Regions from separate parts of the Homo sapiens genome. Here all the other regions are linked to region 3. Evidence: fine-mapped expression QTL. A gene starts in region 3. Each other region holds a variant in brackets. All regions are shown on one strand. Distances are between the middles of the regions.

The links. PIP is the estimated chance that this variant, and not a neighbour inherited with it, causes the effect.
Region 1: its variant is fine-mapped to the expression of LPIN1 in whole blood (INTERVAL, PIP above 0.99).
Region 2: its variant is fine-mapped to the expression of LPIN1 in anterior cingulate cortex (GTEx, PIP 0.96).
Region 4: its variant is fine-mapped to the expression of LPIN1 in whole blood (INTERVAL, PIP above 0.99).

The regions. Positions count from the first base shown.
Region 1 is chr2:11,775,052-11,780,201 of GRCh38, forward strand. LPIN1 (lipin 1) reads left to right here. Exons shown (of 21, transcript NM_001349206.2): 6 at 1,035-1,142; 7 at 4,468-4,594. Among named protein-coding and RNA genes, the nearest start is that of MIR548S, 10 kb to the left of the region's middle. RefSeq lists an enhancer at 3,877-5,076. The variant T/C (reference allele first, on the strand shown) is at 2,728.
Region 2 is chr2:11,095,107-11,100,256 of GRCh38, forward strand. It overlaps FLJ33534 (Putative uncharacterized protein FLJ33534), which reads right to left. Exons shown (of 9, transcript NR_040080.1): 9 at 4,745-4,957. Among named protein-coding and RNA genes, the nearest start is that of FLJ33534, 34 kb to the right of the region's middle. The variant G/C (reference allele first, on the strand shown) is at 2,471.
Region 3 is chr2:11,743,522-11,748,671 of GRCh38, forward strand. It overlaps LPIN1 (lipin 1), which reads left to right and starts at 3,111. Exons shown (of 21, transcript NM_001349206.2): 1 at 3,111-3,150. LOC124907735 (a long non-coding RNA gene) reads right to left here and starts at 1,938. Exons shown (of 2, transcript XR_007086220.1): 1 at 307-1,938. RefSeq lists enhancers at 1,278-1,851, 4,363-5,034 and a silencer at 2,790-3,359.
Region 4 is chr2:11,822,967-11,828,116 of GRCh38, forward strand. LPIN1 (lipin 1) reads left to right here. Exons shown (of 21, transcript NM_001349206.2): 21 at 1,666-4,443. The coding sequence ends at 1,825. Among named protein-coding and RNA genes, the nearest start is that of MIR4262, 11 kb to the right of the region's middle. RefSeq lists an enhancer at 4,718-4,827. The variant A/G (reference allele first, on the strand shown) is at 2,449.

The DNA.
Region 1 (5,150 bases), 32 kb after region 3:
CAATTTTAAAGAATTATTAATGAGATACATCACATTTCTGTTTACATACCAAGTCTTTATAAACTCCATTATGTATTTCACATGCGCAGAACATCCCAATTTGGACAAGCCACGTTTCAAGTGCTCAGGAGCCACCTGTAGCTGGTGGTTTATTATATTGGACAGTGCAGATATAAGACCTTTCTAGATTCTCATTCTTTCTCTAGGTCTGTGGAGATAAAATAGTGGAGGGAAAAATAGTGGTTTAGGAGGAAAATAATGTAGAATATTTAGAACCCAATAATAGATGAAAAAATCTGTTCAAGCACTGTATGTTAATTTTAAGGATTTAAAAGAAACACTTTAAACACAACTCTGAGCGTGTTTAATGCTCAAAACATCTGTAATGTTTTGCCTCATGAATGCAGCATAATGACTGAGTCAGGTTATGTAGCTCTGACTATCACCAAATGGAATGACAAATTAGGATAAATAGCTACATTTCCACATTTGGAATTAGGTATTTTCTGTAAAGAGACAATTGACAGCACACACGAGCACATTTTTGGATTATGTAGTTTGATTAAGCACGAAAGTGTGACCAGAGATGATCAGTTCTACACATGGGTGAAACAGAAAGTGAAATAGGTCATTTGGCAGTTTCCTGCTTTTGTGTCTCAGAAAATTCATGCTGATTTCTTAGCAATTTCAATATCCGGTGCTCTGCCATTATCAGATGTCTGAGTTTCTTTATTTTCTTAAAAATGTCGTTGTTGAGAGTAGTCAAATACTTTACGTAATATATATAATCTTTATATAAAGTATATATACTTTGTAATTATATATAATCTTATATATAATCTTTATATAAAGTATATTATATATACTTTATATAATCTTATATATAGTCTTTAAAGTATATTATATATACTTTATATAATCTTATATATAATCTTTATATAAAGTATATTACATATACTTTATATAATCTCACTTGATGTAATTGACCTCTGATTTTGTCTTTCTTTTAATGTGTATCACGTGGTGGTATCCAGTAGCCTGGTAGATTGCAAAAGGACTGCCCCTCATCTTGCAGTTGCGGCCGAGGGAGGTCTGTCTAGTTCTTGCCCTCCACAGTCTTCCCTGTTCCATCCTTCGGAAAGGTAGAGGAGTTATTTTCCCCATTGGGATATATTCAATAATGAAAAATTTGATCTAACTCTTACTATAAGTCTATTTTACCATTAACCAAATTACTTATGAAGAAAATACCTGTAGATTATATGAAGTGAAAATTTTGATTTAACTTTTACAAATCGATTTCACTAACCAAATTACTTATGAAAAATATGTATATAGATTACTCTTTTCCTTTCGTTATAAGCATTTGTAGATGATCAGATTTTTTTTTTTTTTTAATTCCTAAATTTGACTCTCTGGAAATTATGGTTAAGCATATAATTTTACCTAATTCTGTGAAGTGCTTTGAAAATGAGAATAATGAAATATAGCTTGGGAATATGATCTTCTGTTTTCTGTCTCGGGTTGTTTGACAAATAAGTTTACAAGATATTTTTGGAATACCACTTTAATTTATTATAAACATTTAAGTAGTTTATTGGGCTGTCTGAATAATGGAGTCAGACACTTTCCACAGCATTTCTAGAACAGAATCTTGGAGAATGGCCTGGGCTGGGTCTCAGGCTGAGGATCAAAGGTTGGTGTGTTCACTCGATGTAGTCATCTCAGATTTCTGCCTTCATTCCCTCAGTTTTGACCTACCTACTTTGTGGACTTACATGGTTTACTTTGTAAGCCTTAGCAAATGAAGCTACGATTAATTTGTACGTGGAAAACCTTTTGTCTTTTTGATTAAAGATCCAGACCTCAGGATGTACTTCATTCAGAGGCTACATTTGCAGAAGAAAAGTCCGTTTAAAATGAGGAAAACAAAGTTGTTAATAGTTAAAACTAACTAGCCTTATTGGGACTGGCAAAAATACTGAAAACTTTGATAAGGCTAATAAATACCTTGTTTATGAACATCAGTCATTGACCTTGTAAGCTTACTTTTTTGAACAACCCTTGATCTTAAAATAATAATATTTCATGACGGAGCACTTTGGAGTCATCTTTCTGGTAAATCCCACTTGGCAGTGGGCCCCATTCCTGCGTCCTTTTTGGTCTGTCTGAATTCCCTCAGTGACGGTCGGCAGAAAGCGCATCTGTGTTTGTGCACGAGACCTTTGGAGAAGGGTTGCTGTGGCCTGAACGGGCAGCATTTATGGTGGTGGCCTGTTTGCTGTTGGGGAGGGACTTGCAGCAGACTTTCTCGTAGGGCTGGGCTCCTTATGCGTGAGTTGCACGCCTGAGTGCCTCTATGGGTTTTGTGGCTCGTGGCTTTTATGAAGGGACCAGAATGTTAGGAACTCTGGAGTTGGGAATTGCTGCAGGAGAACCGTGTTCCGCATTTCGTTCTTCTAGAGCAGAGGTTGGTAAAGCACGGCCCATGGGTCAAATCTGGTCCACCATCTGCCTCTGTCAGACTTTCCCGGGCATAGGCAGTTGGTTTACATACTGGCTGTGGCTGCTTTCACACCACCACAGCAGCGAGTGGTTGCGACAGACGTCGTAAAACCCGTAAAGCCCGAGATATCTGCCACTGGGCTCTTTACAGAAAATGTTTGCCGACCCCTGTTCGGAGCAAGCTTTGTCTAAAGGACTTTATTTCATTTAGTGACAGTGAGA[T/C]AATTTATTGCTGCAAAGAACTTATAGCCAAATATGTTCTATTTTGTCTGGTGAAACAGAATGGCAAGAGCTTTTTAGATACTTTGAGGTTTGGGAACAGCACCGTTGAGGGTGAGAAGTTGGTTTTGATGGACTTATTCCATGATGATGCTGGAGAAAGAGTGGATTGCGGTCACACTTGTAGGTACTGAGGCCCCTCGCTGGAGGCCACAGCCTGCGCTTTTCCCATTGCAGTGATACCGAACACGTGACTGTAGACGCTTCAGTGCCACCAAAGCGTTGTCTCTTTGGAGAAGTCCAGTTGTGGAACTGGAAGAGCAAGGAGGTTGAAAGGCCAGGAGCCTTTCCCACATGGACGTGGGGGGGCCCACGTGCCTTCTTATAGGACTGCTCCCTAAAGGGCAGAAATGTGTGTCTGTTGGGAGCAGGGTGTCCCATTGCAGAAGCTCTCCTAATGTGATGTCAGGAGCCTCCTCTCCCCAGGCAGGCGAAAGAGAGCGTGCAGGCTGCCCCGTGGCAGCACGTCATTAGAAGGGCTGGGAGTCATGGGCACCAAGGGAGCAGGGACCACCCTCTGCCCCTTGGTGTGAGATGAGAGAGATGGCACTTGGTCTGGCTGCTCTATGCAGCTTGATCAAAGAGATTCAGGATCAGTTTAGCCCACAAGGTCCCTGTTTGTTGGATACAAGTTATGTATCATCATGAACTCACCTTGTATTGACAGGAAAGTTATATTCAATTGGAGTTGAACTCTAGGTAAATGAGACCAGAAGCATCAGTTTCCGAAGAATAGATAAGGTCTGGGAAAGAAGACGGCAAGGGAAACTGAAAGCTTTATTTCCTGCTTTGTCTGAAAAACCCTGCCGCCTTCCTCTAGAGGAAATGATGTGGGAAAATAAGCAATAATTAACCATGTTATTATGCGGCAATAAATAATTACAAGAATTGCTGCTGTAAATAATATTTCTCTAAGTTGTTTAGAATATGGTGAGGATCTTGTGGATAAGTTAATGACTTTTGGATGGTTACTTTGGCTGGGCAGAAGTAAGACCTTGTTTGGGTCTTCAGAGTAAAAATTCAGGAAACATGGAGGTGGTTACTGAGCGAGCCTTAACCAGTTGGTGAGTCCCTTGTGAAGTATTCCTGGAAGACATAAGATCTTAGAAAATTTCAACTTGTAGGCTCCTGCCCAACGTTATCGAGTTTATTTGTGGCATCCAGCATCTTTGGTAAAATTGGCACATCATATAATTTCCCTGTTTCCCAGGCCAGTGCAGATGATAAATATTTAAAATATGGACTCTAATGAGTGCCTGCCCGAGCCAACCAAGACCCTTTTGCAGCCCTCTGACAGCAGAGGAACTTGATTTGGAAACAGATTGCAGGAGATGCGAGTGCAGAGTGGGGTGGGGAAGGGTGGTCTTTTTGAGGTAAGAACAGACTATTTTTCCCTTTCTCTTTCCATCTCTTTCTTTTGTATTCTGGGCCACTTCTTTTTCTCCTCTCCCCCGCGGTGCACCAGGCGGCAGGGTGGGGCGGGCGACCCACGTGGAGCGCCTTCCATGGGAGGCGCTTCCCTGCCCCCTGGTGGCCGGAGGAGGGATTTGTCATGAGGCTCCGCTCAGAGCGAACGACAGCTGGGGGTGCATTTTCTGGGCTATTTGAGCCATGGAGCTGGGCCCAAAACATTTACAAAAGTTTCTTTTCCCACCTTAATTTTCGCTTTGTGTTTTCCTTAAGTCCTTCCGGTTCCCGACCTTCAACACCTAAAAGTGATTCAGAATTGGTCAGCAAGTCCACGGAAAGGACAGGGCAGAAGAACCCAGAAATGCTTTGGCTGTGGGGAGAGCTGCCGCAGGCTGCTAAGGTGAGAGTCTCTTCAATTCTGCCACGGACCGAAGATTTCTAACTCAGCTTAAATTACATGGAATTAGTATCATAGCATAGCCAAGAAACACAGCTACCAGGAGCCAGAGGTAAACCAAAATATATTAAGGGTTAGCCTTGAATGTTGGAATTACTTTCTTCCACGTTACCAACATTATAGAGAGGTCTCATTGCTTTTGTAGATTTTAAACCTATGGGATTCCTCTTAGGATTTACTTTTTTTTTTTTTTCTTGAGACAGAGTCTCACTCTGTCACCCGGGCTGGAGGGCAATGGCTCTATCTTGGCTCACTGCAACCTCTGCCTCCCAGGTTCAAGCGATTCTCCTGCTTCAGCCTCCCGAGTAGCTGGGATTACAGGCGCATGCCACCACGCCCCACTAATTTTTGTATTTTTAGTAGAGACGGGGTTTCACCGTGTTGGCCAGGCTGGTCTTGAACTGCTGACCTCAAGTGACCCGCCTGCCTCTGCCTCCCAAAGTGCTGGGATTATAAGCGTGAGCTGCCGTGCCCAGCCAGGATCTACATTTTCTATCAC
Region 2 (5,150 bases), 650 kb before region 3:
TTTAAAAAGCTTTAAGTGTGAGCCATTTTCCAAACTGAGATGGATACATCGGAGCTGCGCCCAAGCAGATCTTCAGCATTGCATTTGCCACACTGTTGCATAACTGTATCTTTCTGCATCTCTCTTCCATGTTAGCTTGAGCTCCGCAAGGGCAGGGGTAGCGTCTTGACACTGAATTCCAACAGGTGAACTTGCGCCTGATACAGGCAGTTAATCCAGTCTTGGTTTTTGAGCACCATCTATTACCAGGCACTGTTCCAGGTAGTGCATAAAACAAATGACCTGCTTTCACAGAGCTTACCTTTTAGTGGATGGAGATAAATAGGACAGATAAACAGGTGTACATGCAAGTATATACATGCAGAATGTCAGCTGATGGGTGATAAGTGCTGCAAAGGAATAAAAGGCAGGATGAGGGGCTAGAGGTTGATGAAGAAAGCTGCTGTCTCAGCTGGATCACTGGGAAAAACTCTCAAGAGGTGACATTGTGCCAGCGACCTGAATGCAGTGAGGGAGCCATGTGGGCTTGTTGAAAAAGAGAATTCCAGGCAGAGGAACAGCAGGTGCAAAGGCACTATGGCAGAAGTCTGCCTGAAATGTTCAAAGGCAGCACGAAGGCCAGTGTGCCTGGAGAAGCATGAATGGGGGAGGCGGTGGGAAATAAGGCCAGAGGGGACGTCAGGGCCACAGTCAGAATGTAGGCTTTACTGATGAACATGGATGTCATTGTCCACTTTTGAGTGAAGGAGAAGCATAATTCAACCTGCATTTACTTTTTTATTTTTCTTTTTTTGAGACAGTCTCACTCTCTCCACCAGGCTGGAGTGCAGTGGCATGATCTCAGCTCACTGCAACCTCTGCTTCCCGGGTTCAAGCAATTCTCATGCCTCAGCCTCCTGAGTAGCTAGGATTACAGGTGTGTGCCACCACACCCAGCTAATTTCTGTATTCTTAGTAGAGACGAGGTTTCGCCATGTTGGCCAGCATGGTCTCGAACTCCTGACCTCAAGTGATCCACCCGCCTCGGCTTCCCAAAGTGCTGGGATTACAGGTATGAGCCACTGCATCCAGCCTCAACTTGCATTTTAAAATAAGCATTTCGGCTGGGCAGGGTGGCTCACGTCTGTAATCCCAGCACTTTGGGAGGCCAAGGTGGGTGGATCACCTGAGGTCAGGAATTCAAGACCAGATTAGCTAACATGGTGAAACTCTACCTCTACTAAAAATATAAAAATTAGCTGGGCATGGTGGCACATGCCTGTAGTCCCAGCTACACAGGGGGCTGAGGAAGGAGAATCGCTTGAACCCAGGAAGCGGAGGTTGCAGTGAGCCATGATCACGCCATTGCACTCCAGCCTGGGTGACAGAGAAAGACTCCATCTCAAAAAAAAATAAAATAAAATAACCATTTTGGCTTTACCTCCAGAATACTTTGGGAGTAAGCATGTGAGGAGACAGCCTGGGGGTGGGGGTGGGGGTGAGGGTGGAGGTGGGGGTGGGGGTGAGGGTGGGGGTGCTGCACCACTTCTGAGAAGCACCTCTCGTTGGGGTGGGGTGGCACCGTGGCTAACAAGCAGACCTGGAAGCCAGGCTCCCCGGGTCCCAGCCAGAGCTGTGACCTTGGACACGTTGCTTAGCCTTTTTGTGCCCCATCTGACTCACCATAAAGTGGGGATCATAACATTACCTTCCTCGGTGGTTCTCCAAGTGTGGCCTTGGCCAGCAGCATCGGCATCACCCGAGAACTTACTGGAAATACAAATCCTCAAGCCCCAGCACAGACCTGCCATTTCAGAAACCCGGGGGGTAGAGCTGCCAGACAAACTACAGGTCATCCGCTAAATTTGAATTTCAGACAGATGATTAATATTATCCACGCAATATTTGGGTCATGCTTATATTAAATGATAATTCATTATCTGAAATTCAAATTTAATCGGATGTCCTGAATGTTTGTTTGTTAAGTTTGGCAGCCCTGTCTGGGGGCACCCTGCAATCTGCATTTTAAAGGGTCCTCCAGGTGATGCTGGTGGCTGCATCACGTGGAGGTTTCAGAGCATGGACCCTCCTCGTGGGTGGTGCTGGAGGCCTCCGAGCTTAGCACAGTGCCTGGCTTGCGACCAGTGCTGGAAGTGGCCACCATTCCACCGAGCACTCACCGATGCCAGGGAACTGAGTGCCTTGGCGGAGGCCCACCGGGGGTGTGGTCTCTTCTCCAGGAAGGTTCTTATTCTGCATGGGTTGATTTTCAAAGTACACCAACTTGATTACCTGAAATCATCCTACTCCCTCCCTCTGATGGGCATAGGAAGCGAGTACCCATCCTCCCTGTGGCTCAGGAGTTTGAAATTTCTCTAATTGAGTAACCAAGAAGGAATGAAGTCTAAAATCTAGCTGACTCATGACACTGCAGAGAGAGTAGGTTTCTGCTTCTGGATTGCTCTGGTCAGTTTTGCTGAGCACTTGGACT[G/C]ACGGGGCCTAAAGGAGTCACTCTTGTAAATGTTAACTCAGTGGTCAGAACAGAAGGCTGAGGTGTTTTTGTGAAGACAGCGAGGAAAACACACTTCCTGGCTTCCCTGGAAATAACAGACACGTATGTCCTAATTATTTATTAAATGAATGAATAATTTGTGTTCATCCTATCATCACCCAACCCATTGGTGTCAAAGAATGATGCCAACCTGTTATATCAATAGAGTTAGAAATTTTATGTGAAATCATCATCCTGAGTAACTGTCAGGAATATCTGAAAAATACTAATTATCATGTTAGATTGGCCCTGGGAGATAAACACGGAACTTAAGAATCTAGTAATGTACAGAGCTCACCCCAGCCTCACTCACAAACAAATACCTTCTCAAGATGCCACCGTGTCCTCAGAACTCGATGTGTTCACACACGTGGCTTGTTCCCTAGCAGCAACTTCACATTCAAGCAGAATTCAAGCAGAGGCCTGAAATTAAAACGTCTCCATTTTTCTTTAACCAAATGGTAGTTCTAATTATAGCATTCAGACTGGCGTGCATGTTTATTTGCTCATCTCTCGCTTTATTAAGAGTTAGTGCATTGTACCTTAAAAATGGGTGACAAATTATTACAATGTGTTCTGGGCTGTCGATGATTAGAACAGGTGGTTAAGGAGGCTTGGGGTGTTATCCATTTCTATAATTATGTCATCGTGTTACATTTAATGTTCGTGACCAGGACGCAGGGAATGCAACCTTCAGTCTCAATCCCATCGGAAAAGGAAGCAGTCTCTTCCATGGAAGCACGTGGCCTCCTGAAAACCCTGAAGGGCAGGTGCTGGGAGCCCCCAGTTCTGGTCCTCGTGCTGCCCTAACTGGCTGGTGACCCCAGAGAAGCCATTGCAAACCTGGCCAACTCCTCTTTCGTGAGCCTTTATCTGTCTTCCTAATTTAGCAAATAACAGTGCTCAATAAATATAGTGTCAAATATAGTGTGTCAATATAAAGTGTGTCAAATAAAGTGTGTCAATAAACAAAGTAATTGATGAAAATCACTCAGTCCCACTTCTGAATTTTCCTTTGTTTGTTTGTTTGTTTGTTTGTTTTTTCTGAGACCTGGTTTCTTTCTGTTCCCTGGGCTGGAGTGCAGTGGCACAATCTTGGCTCATTGCAGCCTCTGCCTCCCAGGTCCAAGTGATTCTCGTGCCTCAGCCTCCCGAGTAGCTGGGATTACAGGTGCACACCATCACACTCGATTAATTTTTGTATTTTTAGTAGAGACAGGATCTTGCCATGTTGGCCAGGCTGGTCTTGAACTCCTGACCTCAAGTGATCCACCTGCCTTGGCCTCCCAAAGTGTTGTGACTATAGGTGTGAGCCACTGTGCCCAGCCAGAGACTCTTGTTTTTTGTTTTTTGTTTTTTTTTTGGCTTTGTTTTGTTTTGTTTTGTTTTGTTTTTTTAAAAAGAAAGAAAAGAAAAAGAAAGAAAGAAAAGAGGCCAGTAGCCTGGTCAGAATTTTCTTTTCTGACAGCATGCCTCCTATTAGGTGGCCTCACAGGGATAATATCCCTGTTACAGAAGCACAGAATTCAAATCCTGCACCCCTTGTGTAAGGCACGGCTGCATGAACTAAAGAAAATTACTACATCTCCCAGAGCCTCAGTTTGCCTACTTGTCAAATGGGATACAATAACATTTACTGGCCATGGCTGCTGGGAAAATTAAGTGAGGTGACGCATGCAGAGCACACGGTGGCAGTAGGTGCTCAACAGATGATGGTCCTCAGGATTCAGCTGGTGCCCTTCCCATTCTTCACCTAGTCAATGGTTGTTGAGTTCACTCAAAGCCATCAGACATCCACAGTCCGTCTGGCCTGGCCTTTCCTGCTATGTCATGGCACACAGAGAGCCCATTGTCACTGTCACACCCAACTGTCCTTGTTTCTTTGTCACAATGTCCATCATCCCCTGGCTAGTGCTTGGGCAGAAATGGTGGCTCTCTTGCCAGCCTAGTGCCCCTGGCACTGACATGGCAGCTGACGTTCCGTCCCCCAAGTCGCATCCCCCCATCAGCTCAGTGGCACACTTCTCCCCAGTAGGGCTTCAAGGAAGAATCTGGAAAGGCTCTTGTCTGAAACTCAGGAGAAATTCTCTTGGCGCTGGAAAAGCCCAGTGCTGCTCAAAATCATGCGCCTTTCCTTTCCTGGGGAGGAGCACCCACTTCTGCAGAAAGTCCTGGAGCCGCAGGGTCCTCAAAGGACCTCTTCTTGCAAGAGCCAGTTCACGCTCCAGCCTTGGCACATCAAGGGCTGCTGCCTGTGCCGCCTGGCTCTACCCCACTCTTCCTCACCACCTGCCTGGCGGGAAGGCTCCGTCCTCCCATTTGTCTTCCTGGTGGCTGAGATTTTCTCCACTCCACATCTTTCTCCTTCCAGGAGCAGGATCTTCCCTAACCCTGCCTCCAAGTCCAGATGGCAGTCAGGGATCAGGATTTAAGGAACAATTAACACCCAGTGTGATGATTTCAGATCCTGCTCCCATGACCTCCACATCCCCTAAACTGTATGGCTGCATGATCTAAACAAAATCACTAAATTTCCCAGAGCCTCGGTTTGCCTACCTGTTCAATGGGATGCAATAACATTTATTGCCCATAGCTGGTTGGGAAAACTTAGTGAGGTGAT
Region 3 (5,150 bases):
TGGTTCCCACCTGGTTCTTAAGAGAGTGCGCAGGACAAAGTCACCTCGTGAGGGGCCCCCAACCAAGGAGTGGCCTTAGACCCCGAGGAGATGCCCTCCCTTCCCCGGAGCCCCAGGCACTGGTGCCAGGGATAAAAGTCTGCACCTCTAGGGGAAGAATTCATTGTCCTCTCTTTGGGATCCTTTCTGCCCGGGCAGTTACAGAGCTAACCATGCTCAGAGTCCTGGGGGATCAGCCAGTGTTTCTCCTTCCTACAGTAGCTCGCAGGGCACCCGTGAAGAGGGATGCTCATTCTTCCCGCCTACCTTGCCCCAGGTATTCTGGGCCTGTGTAGGTGGTTGATCTGGACAACTTCAGAGTTCTCGGGATACAACAGCTACTGTCACCAGCTGGGCTCAGCAGTGAACAGATCCTTCTGGGAATGGCCACTCCTCAACTTATGGGGTTTTAGAATTGAAAAATCTTCCAACCCCACAACTGTGACAGCAGCTTCCCATGATGCCTTTTTCATCCTCAAAGCAGATCTGTGTCATGTGCACCTGCAGCCCATTTCCTGGATTGTGAAACTGAGCCTCTAGAATCAGGATGCTTGTGCTGGCTTTGCTAAGGCATTACTCAGCCCCTCCTTCCTCCTCCAGTCAGCTAGAGCAAGATTACTCATCCCTGGAGTTCCTTCTCCTCTTCCGAGTGCAGCTAGGTCCTGGGATTGGCCAGGGGGATCGCCTCAGCTCTCCTGGCTGAGTCACTGCTCAGTCAGGCCTGGTTGCTGATAGCACAGCCAAGGGCCCTCCCAGGGGGACTCCAGCCAGTGCCTGATCAAAAGCGCCAGGGCTTTGGAAAGTCCGGTTTCGTTTATCGCCTGGGAGTGCACTGTGATCTAGTGAGTGTTTTCTTCTCATTGCTTGTTTATACAAAAGGCTCCCCCCAACCCTTGGCCTTCCCCGAGGTGGTAGGCTGGGCAGCAGCGGGACCTAATTTGCTCTGAATCCAGCCAGACCCTGCTCATCAGAGCTGACCCTAGCCGTGCTGGGCCCCCCAGCTCATCATTTTCAGAATGAGGGCTTTGAGTTGAATTGTCCTATATTTTCAGACCTCCCATCTCCACATTTGAATAATGGACTTATTTTACACAAAAAATAAACTTAAGTGGCCTGAAGTTGGACTGGCTTCCTGGAAAGCCTTTCCACATAGAGTAGACTTCTTCCCAGGCCAGCTCCTCCCTGGAGGTGGGAGGGGAGGGTGCAGGAGGGCTTCCTTCTGGGGCCTTGCAACCTCAGCAGTTTTGGGCAGCCGTGATGCACTTGAAACTCTGGTCTCTGAGAAAACCCCTGTGGAGGTAGCTCACCTACAAACTGCAAGATTCTCTTTGTGTAGCTCCCACGTCTGCAATGTCAGCATGGGACAGGCTGCCTAGATAGGAGCTGCCCCAAGCCCAGCGGGAGCGTGTCCACACTTGACCAGATGGACGGGAGCCGCGCCCCTGGACAAAGCTCTCCAAGCAGCTGTCCCCAAACATCTATCTCAAGCTTGCTGGCTTATCCAATTCACTAAGCTGCCGCATTCGATGCTGTTTCTAAGCTGGCCTCCTCCCTGGCCCTCTGCATCTCAGCAGAGCAGCGGTTCCATCTCCACACTGAGACTTGCCTTTGAGTATCGCATCACACACCTCCACCGGTTCCATTCATCAGTAAGCCTGTGGGTTTTGCCTCCAAATCTCTCTGAAGTCCTTCCGCTTCTTGCTGAGTAGCCCCTGTAATCTGAGCCACCATCATGTCCCCCGGTTTCCTGCAGTGCCACCTGTCTGCTGGCTTCTACTCCTGCAGTCCATTTTCCATGGAGTGGAGGGGTGACTTTTTAAAGAAGTAAATTAGATCATATAATTCCCAGGTTTAAAATTCTTTTTGGACCAGGCGTGGTGGTTCACACCTGTAATCTCAGCACTTTGGGAAGCCAAGGTGGGAAGACTGCTTGAGCCCAGCAGTTTGAGACCAGCCTGGGCAACATAGGGAGACCTGGTCTCTACAAATAGTTTGAAAAATTAGCTGGGCGTGGTGGCATGCACCTGTGGTCCCAGCTACTTGAGAGGCTGAGGCAGGAGGATTGCCTGAGGCCAGAAGGTGAAGGCTGCAGTGAACCGAGATTGTGCCACTGCACTGTAGCTTGGGTGACAGAGTGGGACCCTGTCTCAAAAAGAATTGGTTTGGAATAACATTTAAATAATACCTAAACTCCTTGCCTTGGCCTACAAGACCTGAATATTTGGCCCCTGCCTTCCCTCCAGCCCACAGCACCGGCCCCAGGACCTTTGCACCTGCCATTTCTGCTCTCCAGAAAGCCCTGCCTCCTCCCCATCTTTGTAGTCATAGGTGTTTCTTGTCATTTAGAGTTTCAGTTCAAATATGACACCCTCCCATTGATGGAAATCATTTCACCACCAGACGTTATGTGGCTCATTGTTTATCCGCTGCCTGCCTCCCGGCTGGAGAGGCGCAGGGAGCTGCCTGTCCCTCCTGTTCAGAGCCACCGTTCCGCACCTGGACCACCGCTTGGCAGAGGCGGGAGTGGAGGCTGTCACCATCAGGATGAAGGACAGGGGTGGCCCGGCGTGGAGAAGCTAAGAAGAGATGGCGATAGGTCAACGCGATTGCGCCTTTAAGGTGGAAGAAACGAAGGGCGAGGGTCAGTAAAGTCAAGGACGGGCTCAGATCCCGCCACTGGTGATAAGCGGGACCCATAGGACCGACGTGATCGCGGCCAGGCCCTGGGTGGTTTACCTGGACTTTTACCTGGCTGCCTTTTCTCTGCACCCCTCCGTCCTCACTCCCCCAGTCATCGGCATAGGTCAAGTCAGAGTGTTGAAGAAACACACGAGTTTGGCTCTGGAAAGGAAAATCAGAAAGGCGGCCTAAGGGGCCCCACCCCCAGGAACGCTAAGATAGGCGGCCAGGGGTGAGCGGGCAGGGCCGGCCAGCAGGCCCTGAAAGCAGCCGGGCCACCAGCGCGTCCCGAGTCCCCCTCGCACCGCCCCGCTTGCCCCGCCCCTGCCCTCTGCCCCCGCCCCTGCCCCGCCCCCGAAGGCGAGCTGCGCTGACAGCCGGCGGCGGGCTGGGTGTTTGCAATACAAAGGCGGCCACGCGCGGCGCCGCTCGGTGAGTAGCCGCCGCCTCCAGCCTCCCGCTGTGGAGCAGGGGCCGCAGCCTCGGGTTAGGCGGGGCGGGGCGCGGCGCCGGGGCGCTGAGGACGCGTGGCGAGGCGGGGGCTCGGCCCCGGGGCCCGAGGACCGACGGCCGGGCTACGTCCCCGGGGCCCTCTACGGGAAGTGGTTCGGGGGAGGGAGGCGGGGAAACAGGCCCCGGAGGCCGGGAGGGCCTCGCGAGCATCCCTCGGGCCTGGCTTTCCTGACGCGCCGCGAGGCCCGGTGTGGGCCCGGCTTGGCTGATCTCGAGCGGCGTAGGGGCCACTGGGGGCTGCCGCGCAGTCCCAGAACCGCGGGGACTAGCTCCAGCCGGCCAGCGCGGGTGCGTCCTGGCTCTGCGCGATCATCCCCAGCTTTGCGCCGGGGACTGGGATGAGAGCCTTTCTTTCCCCCGGAGTTAGGATTCCAGCGCTGCAGTTGAGGAAACTGAGGCTCAGGGAGGTTGACCTCTGTGCCCAAGGTCATACAGTTGCCGGGCGGCAGGGCAGGCTGAGCCCAGGTTGGAATCCCGGTTCTCATATTACAGCTCTCCCCTGCGAGGCCTCTGCACCTTTCTTGCAGCCTAGGAGGTGCTAGGCCTAGTGAGCTCCGTCAGCTGCTCCTGCACGTAATTTTATTATGGGCAAGGCCAGGAAAATGCAGGATGAGAAGTAACGTTTTGGGAGTAACTTAAGTGCTGTGGAGCTAGAGTAGGTAATTTGTGTGGTCAGTAGTTGCTGGAGAAAGCAGATGTCAACCCTGTTTTTGATCAGCAAGCAGGAAACCAACTAAGACAACTGGCAGTATTAATTTGGAGATGTTTTAGAACCCGGCAGTTTCCCACAGGATAGAAGTGTTTTGGGAAATCAAAGCTTGTAGCCGTTTTTTTAATTGGGGGTGTTGTGGTATGGTGGTCTAGGGGTAGTGATTGTGAGATTGACTGTTTATCCTTTGTTCCGTAATTTGGGTCTTATTAATGAAAGTAAGCAGTTGAGGAATGTATAGTATTTGAGAAATAAGCACATCCACACATGAACACTTTTCTTGCTCCCAGATTCTTGTTGAAAGGTGTAACAGTTGGATTTATGATTATATACTTTGATAGCACTTCACGTTTGCCAGCATTTGTTATTGAGTGTTTTTGTGCATGGGTTGTGTGTTTTGGCGCTTATTATTCCTATTTGCATGTGGGGCCCTGTGGTCCTGTGGAGCCAGGCCTGGATATAGCCCTGGACTCGGGTCGGGAGGTCTGGGCTCTGCCTGAGCTCTGTGGGACCCTGAGCGAGTTCTTTCACCCACCCAGGTCTCGCTTATCAGCAGTTCCTTTCTTTTAGAAAAGCACAGGGGGACAAGGGGCGGACCTGCTGAGTCTTGTGGTGTGGGAGAGAACGCGAGGGTTCAGGTGAGAGACCGCAGGGATTCCTGGTTGTAGGGGGGACCTTGGAAGTGACTGAGAAGGAGCCTGCCCTGGATTAGGTGGGGACAATTGGCCTGGCCCAGCCAGAAGGAAGTCTGTGGGTCCTGCTCTCCTGCTCTTTGCGTGGTCAGCTGCACAAAGGGCCCAGAACAGACGGCAGGGGAGGGTCAGGAGATGAAAAGATATTTCAGAAGAAGGTCCTGAGGCCACCGTGGTCTGAGATGCGCCGAGGCCGGCACAGAGCACTGGGCTTTGCAGTTGTTGTTCTGACCACTCACAGATGTAGAACTTGGGCAGAAGACTTCAATCCTCTGAGCCTCAGTTTTCCCATCTGTAAAATGAAGGGATAATCATACCCATTCACAGGATTGTTGCAAAAATTAATTGAGATAAAAAAGAGCCCCTGGAACATAATATGGGGTCCACGAATCATTGTGGTTGTTATGATTTTAAAGTGCCACAGGGTGCCAGCGAGGAGGGGCTCTTTGTGGGGTTGGGACAGTCCTGGCTGACGCCGGCCTCTGCTCTGTAAATCATCCCTGTGGGACACCCCCTCC
Region 4 (5,150 bases), 79 kb after region 3:
GGACTGGAGGCGGGGTTGTTCCTGTGAGAGAGTAAATCTCCTCCCCCAGGAAGCTCACATTTCTCTGGCGCTGAACTTGGTATAGCTATTTCTGAGCCAAGTAGATGCTTGTCATTCAGAACTGGGACAGTCATCTGAAATGTCTTCAGAGGCTGGGGCCACACAGCGGGAGCAGCTCAGTTCTTTTTCCCTTTCGTTTGCGAGTGTCTGTGCGTAAGCTCTGCCTGCTTGGGAGGAGCACTGTGTGTGGAGGTCGGTCTGGGGGAGGCGCGCAGATGGAACTCGGCCTGGCCGCTCAGGGAGTGTGAGAGTGGGTTTGGTTCCAGTGCACCGCGGCCTTGTAGTCAAGCCTGCAGGGAGGGGCCCTGCTGCCGCAGCCACAAACCTCAGACAAATAAGCCTTAAAGCCGGGAGGTATTTTAAAAATCTGTCTGTTTGTTTGAATCCCAAGGAAAGACATAACTCTTGGTTTTGTATTAGGAGACGTCACTTTCCCATTTTGTGCAAGCACACTGTTTCTCATAAGTCCTTTGGAGGTCCTTTATTAAATATACACACTCGGCTTCATTTAGTACATTATTTTATACCTCAGAACATGCACACTTCTGGAGTCTGGATTTTGGAAGTTCCTTTAGGTTCTTAGCAATTTGGAACTAGACAGTGATCAGTGACTGTCAAGGAGGAATCTGGGGATGGCTGGCAGTGGGCTGGGTGTGCCAGAATCTCAGTTTGGAGGTGCCTGGAGGTCTGAACATGCATATTCAATATAGCAATAGCAACTTTCTTTTCATAGTATAAGCCACAGAAACTAACATGCAACATATTTTTGGGCATGCAAATAAAAGAGAGCAAGAGAACGTTGTAGGAAGCATTGGGAAGCCCTGCTCTAATTCAGCTCCACAGACTATAAAGACGAAGGGCTCCAAGAGGGCAAGACAATTGTCCAAGGTTACAGCAAGCAGGAGAGCCCGGGTCTCTTGACCGTCATGCCAACCAGGGCTTTTTTCTCTAAGACGTGTTGATAATTTGTCATTTAGATACATTTGAGCACCCAGTATACATTATTTTAATGTTGCATATGTTATTTTATTTAAATTATCCTTAAAACTGTGGCATAGTTTTTATTTTCCTCCCTTTACAGTGGAGGAAATTGGCTTAGAGAGGTTACGCCATTTGCCCACGATCACGCAGCTAGTAAATGGCAGAGCTGAACATCAAATTAATGTCTCTTTAACCCCAGGACCCAGCTCCTTTTCACTATGCAATGAAGCAATCTCTGTCAGGTGCTCCAAAGATGTGCCTTGTCTGTGATTCTTCCCCCGATGTCCCATATGTGACCCCTGCAGCAGGCGCTATCCCATGGCCATGGTGACTTCCTCCTGCCGTCTTTTGCTTGGCTGTATCTCCTTTACCTGTCCTTCAAGTGAAGTCAGGTCCCACCCACCTCTTCCCCAGAGCCTTCTCTGATGCCTTGTTTGCATACTCTTCATTTTCATCTCTCATTTTCAATTAATCGATAACAAATTATTCTAGAATGACTTGAGTCGTGTCGATAAGTAGGCGGTCTGCTCCTTGAGGTTGTAGATCTCTCTTGACTTCTACGTGCAGCCCTGGGTGCATAGCTGGTATCGCTCAGTGCCAGTGACAATGTCCCTTTCCTTCCAGGTATGTGAGACTCTGTGAAGTAGTCGACCACGTTTTCCCGTTGCTGAAAAGAAGCCATTCTTCAGACTTTCCCTGTTCGGATACCTTCAGTAACTTCACCTTTTGGAGAGAGCCACTGCCACCTTTTGAAAACCAGGACATTCATTCTGCCTCAGCGTAAAATGTCCCAAGCAGCCTCTTGCCAGCAGTGCAGAGCCTGGTTGTCACCCATTAAAGGATAGGTCTCCCCGGAGTGCACAGCTCCACCTGGGAGCCTGGCGCGTCATCATTGGCCTGACAGCAGAGAGAATTGAGAAGCATTTCTCCCCTGCCCCACCCCGGGGCTGACATTTCTAAGCAAGATAGGAAGGGAGCACTTTCTAGGCTAGGAGTTGGGTGCATTTGTACCGTGAAAAGCATTCCTCAGTTGTGGCTTAATGCCAGTTACGACGCTGCCTTTCCGGCCTGCTCCAGCAAGTAGCTACTGGTTCACGTGCAGTTTGGGGCTGTGAAACCTAGGCAGAAGGCGGCTGTCTGAGGGCTGTCCCCGCCTAGGACAGGGTCAATCGAGGAATGCCAGATGTGCACGGTTTTTGGCAAAGTAGGGGGCACATTTCCATTATAGCAATGTTAGTGCCACCACCTTCTGAACACAGTGGGGAGGGCTGTGAAGGCTCATGTGACCTGGATCTGAGGTCTCTGATAGAAATCTGGACGCCACCGGGTCCAGGCCTGGCCTCAGACTTGGCCTTGTGGATGGGCCCCTTACAGTATTTGCTGACTAGTCTCATTTTTAGGTGATAA[A/G]TTTTTCTTTAATTCCTTTGGTTAAAGATAGTCTATTTCATTGGCATATCTCCCCCCAGTTTTTGTGGCTCAAGGCTGGAATATTTATGCCTTAATATATCTATGGCAGACATTTAAGAATGCGCTTTATCTAGCTCATGGTAACTTTGCAACGCCTTAGATTAAAATGACAGTAAATATTACTAAGGCAGTATTTTGAATGAGTTTGACACTGCCGGCTTCCTTCCATCCAGCGAGGTGGTGCTGACAGTGTGGACTTGAGCACACTTATGCCAAATGATAATGATACTGACTTCTGTTGGGAGCTCTCCAAAGAAACTGGTTGGTTTTAAGAAAATAGTTTCAAGAAGTTCAACTATATTCTTTTAGATATTATGTATTGTTTTACTCTGATTAGGTTACTGTGATAGGCATTTATTCATATTCTTTCTATACCACTGTCATTAATATATTAAAAAGATGTATGTGTTAGACTATCGAAAGGGCCTTATTCTCTCTTTCTCATAGACTGACCTTCTTTTGGAATTTCTGAGTCATTTATTTTCCTTAGCTTTTTCCACTCAAATTAAGGGCAAGCGAAAAAGTAATAATTTGGCATTCTTTAAGCCTACAGAATGTGATTCTTTCACTTGTTTATTACACTGGCTCGTGGACAGAACAATTTGAAAAGTGAAAGAATTATTTTGGTAAAAGATTTTGCTTTACTTTTCGAAGCATTATTTTTTTAAAGAGTGTTTTACTCCAACGATTGAAACATTTTCCTATTTAAATTTCATTGTTAGAATCACAGGAGGCAAAAAATGGAACGGTTGAATGAAATTTTACTCTTTCTGTGAAAGAAAATCCACAGAGTTGTTGCCTCCGTTGTAGTTGGTGGGCCCCGTTAGCATTGGATGCCTTTGCCAAATGGTTCATGTGGACACACAAAGGCAAACAGATCTGCCATCGATCGCAGATTTCTGTAGAAACACGGATGTGCATGTGCAGATTCCCTTTTGCAGGTATTAAAAATAATTAAAAATAGTCCTGCCTGAGGTTGCAGTGAGCCGAGCTTGCACTACTGCACTCCAGCCTGGGTGACAGAGTAAGACTCCATGTCAAAAAAAAAAAAAAAAAAAAAAAAGTCCTGCCTTAACTAACTCCTCTGCGCTTGTTCACTAGTAACCTAAAGAGGCTATATTCATTCTTTATGCAATGAGGGTATTTTTGAGTGAATTTTAACTGCTCTGAACTAAGTATAAGCTCATGGGCCTGCAAAGGTTCAGACGGTTTCTCCTTTGCACCCAGGAGGAACTTTGGCTGCGAGAATGGGGGGATGTATCCCTCATGCAGTTGGCATCCAGGCAGCCCTCTGCAGCAGCACACCCTGCAGGCGGAGTTTTCAGAGGATGCAATTTTGGATCCCGAATTTTGATGTACCTTAAACTTCCACATCACTGCACCCTGAAACAGAGCATGCTTTCCAGAAAGTCACACTCTCAGATCTGTGTCAAGTTCAATGTGAGCCCTGGCAAGGCTGGCATATTAACACCTGCCTTCTGGCTTCTGAAAGTGAGATTTGTATATGGGCTGCACTCACGCATATACGAGTTGGTTTATCTTTGTGTACATGACTATAACCCAGTGATGCTGAGGTCATGTGCTGGAATGCTGTATTTGGACCACACATTTCAAAGTTGCCCTATGGAAATGAATCCTACTTAGTGACAAGTCATCAAATGTTTGTCACATGTGATGAAGACAAATATGTATACCTGGCATAGAGAAAAATATATACCTGGTACATTGGAGAAAAATAATTACACTTTCAAAGAGAATTCCCTTTGCAATTTTATGTTTGGATCACCACTGTAAGCACACTTTATTTGCATTTGATCTGTATTTGTATATGCTGATGCAATGATAAAAATCACTGTAATACTTCATTGTGTTGTACTGGATGCAAAGCTAGAAAATATTGCAATAAATGAGACCGATGAAAGACTTCTCTGAAAATCAGGTGTGTGAATTTTAAATAGTTTTTGGTAAGTTACTAAGTTGTTGACTTTTCTGGGGTGTGTTATCAAGCATATTCTAAAAAAAATCTTCAGGCTATGAATTGTTCACTATTTGGAATAAATGTTTTTCCTGATGTTTTAGATTTAAATGGGTAAAAGACCAGCCTTCTCTATGCACTTGCTGGGGACGGGAGGGATGAAGAAAGAGAGGAGAAGGCTGCACCCGGGATCCCTCCCTGCCCTGGTGGGATGATTCAGGAGTAGGGAGGTTTCAATCAAGTGAATTTCATGAAGTGCCTCCCAGGGCCTGGCCTAGAATTGGTGTTTAGCACATGGGGGTTCCCCAGCCTCACAGCTGCTGTCCTCATTTTTTCGACTCTTCTCTGTGGTAAACCCCAGATTCATTTTTCATTTTGAATGAATCAAAATCCTTGACTAGTGCAATCATATAAGCTGAAAACTGTCATAATTCCTATTGATTTTACATGTCAACGTGGCTGGAAGCTTCCTATTGATTTACCTGCATCAGCCTAAGCGTTTTTGGAATAAATGGAAAAGTATTGGCCCCCTAAATGCAACATAGCCGGCCAGGATACTAGGCCCAATTCCTAATGAAGCCCAAATCCAAACGGTTCATCTCTAGGTGCCTGTAGAATTAATGCTTTTGCATCTTAAAAAACAAAACCTTCTAATTTTGTTGAACAC